Homo sapiens: one gene and its partner. The protein of the gene in region 1 purifies or fractionates together with the protein of each later gene. This does not show direct contact. Each region holds a gene or a part of one and is shown on either strand. Other genes may lie near its edges.

The links. The genes of interacting proteins can lie anywhere in the genome.
Region 2: the proteins of TBCD (region 1) and NFU1 fractionate together in Homo sapiens (co-fractionation; one large-scale study listed by BioGRID). This does not show direct contact.

The regions. Positions count from the first base shown.
Region 1 is NC_000017.11:82,762,065-82,765,564, reverse strand, and holds part of TBCD (tubulin-specific chaperone D), read right to left. Parts: intron 1,601-3,500; coding exon 1,503-1,600; intron 1-1,502.
Region 2 is NC_000002.12:69,399,436-69,402,935, forward strand, and holds part of NFU1 (NFU1 iron-sulfur cluster scaffold homolog, mitochondrial), read right to left. Parts: intron 1,104-3,500; coding exon 929-1,103; intron 1-928. UniProt on the Homo sapiens protein: Iron-sulfur cluster scaffold protein which can assemble [4Fe-4S] clusters and deliver them to target proteins.

The DNA.
Region 1 (3,500 bases):
TTTCCCGCCAGACAACAGAAATGCGCCTCGCCACTACGAACCCCAAGCCCCACCCTGAGACGGCTGTGAGTACTTCCATAGTCAAAACTGCCAACAGTGAGCCTCTGGGCCAGCACACAGACACCCGCAAGCTTGTAAGAAAAGCAGACTATGAGCACAGACACCCGCAAGCTTGTAAGAAAAGCAGACTATGAGCAGACACCCGCAAGCTTGTAAGAAAAGCAGACTATGAGCACAGACACCCGCAAGCTTGTAAGAAAAGCAGACTATGAGCACAGACACCCGCAAGCTTGTAAGAAAAGCAGACTATGAGCACAGACACCCGCAAGCTTGTAAGAAAAGCAGACTATGAGCACAGACACCCGCAAGCTTGTAAGAAAAGCAGACTATGAGCAGACACCCGCAAGCTTGTAAGAAAAGCAGACTATGAGCACAGACACCCGCAAGCTTGTAAGAAAAGCAGACTATGAGCAGACACCCGCAAGCTTGTAAGAAAAGCAGACTATGAGCAGACACCCGCAAGCTTGTAAGAAAAGCAGACTATGAGCACAGACACCCGCAAGCTTGTAAGAAAAGCAGACTATGAGCACAGACACCCGCAAGCTTGTAAGAAAAGCAGACTATGAGCACAGACACCCGCAAGCTTGTAAGAAAAGCAGACTATGAGCACAGACACCCGCAAGCTTGTAAGAAAAGCAGACTATGAGCACAGACACCCGCAAGCTTGTAAGAAAAGCAGACTATGAGCACAGACACCCGCAAGCTTGTAAGAAAAGCAGACTATGAGCACAGACACCCGCAAGCTTGTAAGAAAAGCAGACTATGAGACCCCCGCCTAGACCTACTTGCTCAAAATCTATAGCACAGCAAAATTCCCAGGAAATTCATCTGCACATTAAAGTGTGAGAAGCACTTCCATTTCCACAGAGTCTCGCTCTGTCACTCAGGCTGGAGTGCAACAGCATGATCTCGGCTCACTGCAACCTCTGCCTCTCAGGTTCAAGCCATTCTCCCGCCTCAGCCTCCCAAGCAGCTGGGATTACAGTCATGTGCCACCAAGCCCAGCTAATTTTTGTATTTTTAGTAGAGACGGGGTTTCACCATGTTGGCCAGGCTCATCTCGAACTCCTGACCACAGGTGATCCACCTGCCTCAGCCTCCCAAAGTGCTGGGATTACAGGCATGAGCCACCGCACCCGGCCTGCTTTCTCCTTGTAAGAAGTTTTTCTGATTTAGTCTCATCTCCACCCCATTCCCTTCCTAGCTACACAGTGCTTCAATCTATTCAAATGCAAGATGCTGAATATCCTGACACTGTTTCAGCCAAAGAGCCCACATCACTAAATTCTGATCCCCAACATACAGTAAAAAGGGACAGAATTAAACCCACAACTTGTGTCTAAGAACTATCTTTCTTGAGAAATAACATTTTGGAGGGTAACCTCTGGACCAAGTATATTACAAAAGTATCTGTCAACTCTGAAGTGCTATGGAAATGTTACCTTGGTGATGATGTAAAGAAATTTAAAAGCCAGATGTACAAGGGAAGCTGGAGATGTCTGATCTTGCACTATGTCCAACAACAAGTTCATCATCCATTCTAGGGAAAAACATAGGAAACATTTACTGTAAAAGTGAACATCAACATGACATTGAGGCCGGCCAGGTGTGGTGGCTCATGCCTGTTTTCCCAGCACTTTGGGAGACCAAGGTGGGAGGATCATTTGAAGCCAGAATTTCAAGGCGGCAATGAGCTATGATCCTACTATTGCACTCCAGCCTGGGCAACAGAGCAAAACCCGTCTCTTTTTTTTCTTTTTTTTTGAGACAGAGTCTTGCTCTGTCCCCCAGGCTGGAGTGCAGTGGCGTGATCTCAGCTCACTGCAACCTCCACCTCCCGGGTTCAGGCTATTCTCCTCCCTCAGATTCCCAAGTAGCTGGAATTACAGGCACGCGTCACCACGCCTGGCTAATTTTTGTATTTTTAGTAGAGACGGGGTTTCACCATGTTGGCCAGGCTGGTCTCGAACTCCTGACCTCAGGTGATCCACCCACCTCGGCCTCCCAAAGTGATGGGATTACAGGTGTGAGCCCACCGCACCTGGCCCAAAACCCTGTCTCTTAAAAAACAAAAACAAACAAAAAGACATAGCTAGGTTAAACGTAAGCAAAAGGAAAAAGATATTCCAACCAATCACAAATCATAAAAGAGCTGGAGTGGCTCTGTTAATATCAGACAAAGTAAATGTCAGAACAAGCATTACCATCAGAGATAAACAGAATGTTTCATGATAATAAAAGGATCAATTCATCATGAAGACTTAACAATTCTGTAAGTATACACACCAACCTACAGAGCTTCAAAATAAGCACAGAAGAAGCTGAGAGAAATGAAAGGAGACACGGTTGAAAACTTCGACACTCCTGTTTCAGGAACTGATAGAACAAGTAAGAGAAAATCGCTGAAACCTAAACAGCACTATCACCCACCTTACTTACGTGACATTTAGAGAACAATCTACCCAACAACAGAACAGACATTTTTCTCAAGTGCACGCGGAATGTTCAACAAAACAGACCATACGCTGGGCTGCAAGTCTTCATACATGGAAAACAACTGCAACTGGCATCCGGGAAACGCAGAGAAGGACACAACGAGATACACTCCCTGAAATCAGAGAGACTGGCAACGCTGAGTGCTGAAGAGAACCCAGAGCAGCTGGAATCCTCATACCTTGTTGGTAGAAATGGTCAACAGTACAATCTTCATGGCATCAGTATGGCAGGTGATGAGTCACACACTTTTTTTTTTTTTGGAGACAGAGTCTCACTCTGTGACCCAGGCTGGAGTGCAGTGGTGTCATCTCAGCTTACTGCAACCTCTGCCTCCCACATTCAAGTAATTCTCGTGCCTCAGCCTCCTGAGTAGCTGGGACTACAGGCACCTGCCACCACACCCGGCTAATTTTTTGTATTTTAGTAGAGATGGGGTTTTACCATGTTGCCCAGGCTGGTCTTGAGCTCCTGAGCTCAGGCAATCCACCTGCCTCAGTCTCCCAAAGTGCTAGAATTACAGGTAGGAGCCACCGCGCCTGGCCAAGTCATACACTTTCTACAAGTAAGACACTTTCTGCTACTCAGCAATTCCACACATGCGTATTTTCCCAAGAGAAAATAAAACCTCTGTCTACCTAAAAACTTGTACATAAACATTTTCACAGTAGCATTACTTTTTTTTTTTTTTTTTTTGAGACGGAGTCTCGCTCTATCACCCAGGCTGGAGTGCAGTGGCAAGATCTCGGCTCACTGCAACCTCCACCTCCCGGGTTCAAGCAATTTTCCTGCCTCAGCCTCCCAAGTAGCTGGGACTACATGCGCACACCGCCACACTGGGCTAATTTTTTGTATTTTTAGTAGAGATGGGGTTTCACCGTGTTAGCCAGGATAGTCTCAATCTCCTGACCTCATGATCTGCCCACCTCAGCCTCCCAAAAAGTAGC
Region 2 (3,500 bases), on another chromosome or scaffold:
CTAGAATTCTACTCAGTATAACAACAAACTATGATTTCTTAATGGGCTTCTTGCTTGCATATTTAAGAATACATAGATTAGGCCAGTTGTGTTAATCCTTAATCCCAGCATTTTGGGAGGATCACCTGAGGCCAGGAATTCAAGACCAACTTGGGCAACATAGCAAGACCCCGTCTCTACAAAAAAAAAAAAAAAAAAATTGGTAAATATGATGTAGTAGAGTTCTTCCACTAAAGATTTCTAAATCTCATCTATAAAACACTGTGTTACATTTTAAACCTTTTTCATAATTTTTGTGCAATCAGGGCAGCAATATGCCCTCTGAGTCTCTGTAGCCTTATGTGCAAAATGGGAATGACTTAATGCACTGTGTCATTAGAAGATGAAATGAGCAAAAATGCCTGGCACATAGTAGGTTCTCATAACACTAAAGTTACTTCATTTTTTTTTTTTTTTGACGGAGTTTCGCTTTTGTTGCCCAGGCTGGAGTGCAATGGCGCGATCTCGGCTCACCGCAACCTCCGCCTCCCAGGTTCAAGCAATTCTCCTGCCTCAGCCTCCCAAGTAGCTGGGATTACAGGCGTCTGCCACCATGCCCAGCTAATTTTGTATTTTTAGTAGAGACGGGGTTTTCTCCATGTTGGTCAGGCTGGTCTGGAACTCCCAACCTCAGGTGATCCACCCACCTCAGCCTCCCAAAGTGCTGGGATTATAGGTTTGAGCCACTGCGCCCAGCCCAAAGTTACTTCTAAAATAAGAGACTTCAAGTCTGATAAAAATTGCAACACAAAAATCCAGCCCTTGAAGAAAAAGCTAGGTCATGAACTTCTTTTCAAATACTTGCCTTAACATCTATTTCCAGCCTTTGTATCTACAAAGAAAAAGAAAAAATGAAAAAAATCTAGACTGTCATATAATATTGGCATACCTGTTCTACGCCTTCTACCTCCGGAATATAAAACTGCAGCATGTTCTGAATTCCATTTTTCAGAGTAATGATTGAACTAGGGCAGCTGGTACAAGAACCCTGGAGTTTCAGCTGTACAATGCCATCTTCAAAGCCTTTGTAGATTACATCCCCTCCATCTTCCTGCACAGTTGGCCTGTGAGGTCAAAGAATATTTATGACATATTCTTTAAAATACAAGTTTTCATTGAAAAAATTTAATACAGCTCAGAGCTTAAATTTTATATTAGTAAAATTCACAAAGTTAGAGCTACTTTTATAATACAGAATAATAACTGTGGCTAAGTTTTATTTAGAATTAAATTTTTTTTTTTTACTCTCAGGTAAAATACCAAAATTCACTCATACAAATATTTCCTCCGCTTACCGCATTTGATCTTGCTTGCTAATATCTTTTTAAGGCTGGGCATGGTGGCTCACACCTATATTCCCAGCAATTTGAGAGGCCAAGGTAGGAGGACTGCTTGAGCCCAGGAGTTGGAAGCTGCAGTGAGCTATTATCACACCAGTGCACTCCAGCTTGGGTGACACAGCGAGACCCTGTCTCTAAAGAAATTTTTTTTAAATAAAACAATATTTTACAGCACTTAAGATTTCAAATTTCCTAATAATTATTGTGATTACCTAAAATATACTCAGTCACTTCTTTTGAGTGAAGGAAAAGGGAGACTGTCACATGCTGGCTTCATTTTCAGGTAAACTTTTCATTGAAATACAACATTAATACAGAAAAATGCTTAAATCATGTATGCACAGTTCACTAAGTTTTCACAAAGTGAACACACATTTATAACCACCCAAACCAAGAAACAACACCAAACCTCCAGAAGTCCCCTTTGGGCTTCCTTCCAATCACTCCCCACAACAAAAATGCTGCCATTATCCTAATTCATATCACCACTGATGAGTTTTGCCAGTCTCTGAACTTTATAATTTACAAATATAAATTCTATTTATAAATCACGTAGAATTACTCTTTTGTATCTGGCTTCCTATGCTCTTTGTGAGATTCACCTATGTTGCTGAGTATAGTACTAGGTCATTTACTCTCACTGCTGCATAGTATTCCATTAAGCAAATATACCAGAATTTATTTATCCATTCTACTGTTGATAGACATTTAGGTTAACATTAGGTTTTGGCTTTTACAAATAGTGCAGTTATAAAGATTCTTAGAAATGTCTTTTGGTATGCATATATATTACTACTGGGAATATACCTGAAAGTGAAATTGCTGAATAAAGAGTATGAATATGTTGAGATTTAATAAATACTGCCATATAGTTTTCCAGTTATATAAACTTACATTCCCACCAGCAGTGTATGAGAGTTTCTGTTGCTCCACATCCTCACCAACAATTGGTGTTGTCAGTCTTAATAGTTTTAACTATTCTACTGGATTTGTACAAATATTTAATTATGGTTTGAATATTCACAATAACTAATGAGGTTAAGCATTTTTTCATGTTTAGTGGCTACTTGATTATCTTTTTTCCTTTTTTTTTTTTGGAGACAGAGTCTCACTCTGTTGCCCAGGCTGGAGTGCAATGGCACGATCTCAGCTCACTGCAACTTCCGCCTCCCGGGTACAGGTGATTCTCCTGCCTCAGACTCCCAGATAGCTGGGATCACAGGCATGCACCAATACCCCCAGCTAATTTTTTGTATTTTTAGTAGAGACCATGTTTCACCATGTTGGCCAAGCTGATCTTGAACTCCTGACCTCAGGTGATCCGCTCACCTCAGCCTCCCAAAGTGCCGGGATTATGGGTGTCAGCCACTGCGCCCAGCCACTATTTGATCATCTTTTGCGAAGTACCTGCTCCAGTGTCTGATTGTCTTTTTCTTACCAATTTGTACAAGTTATTTATGTATTGTCATATAAACACTGTAAATATCTTCTAATCTGTACCCTGCCTTTTGACTGTAAATGGCACTTTTCAACAGTCTCGCTTTGTCACATAGGCTGGAATACAGTGGCATGATCACAGCTCACTCACTGCTACCTAAAACTCCTAAGCTCAAGGGAGCCTCCCCTGCCTCAGCCTTTTAAGTAGCTGGAATTACAGGCACAAGCCACTGTGCCCAGCCAATGGCATCTTCTGATGAAGAGACAGTCACAATTTTACTGTAGTCCAATTTATATGTATTTTCCTTGATTTTTATCTGATATATATATACATATATTTATTTTTTAAGACGGAGTTTCGCTCTTGTTGCCCAGGCTGGAGTGCAATGGCTCGATCTCGGCTCACTGTAACCTCCGCCTCCCGGGTTCAAGGGATTCTCCTGCCTCAGCCTCCCGAGTAGCTGGGATTACAGGTGCCCGCCACCATGCGTGGCTAATTTTTTATTTTTTTAGTAGACACAAGGTTTCTCCATGTTGGTCAGGGTGGTCTCGAACTCCCAACCTCAGATGATCCATTCACCTCGGCCTCTCAAAGTGCTGGGATTACAGGTGTAAGCCACCGCGCCCGGTCTTTATCTGATTTCTTGTGTCCCGTTGGGGAAAAAAAAAAAAATTGCCTACCCG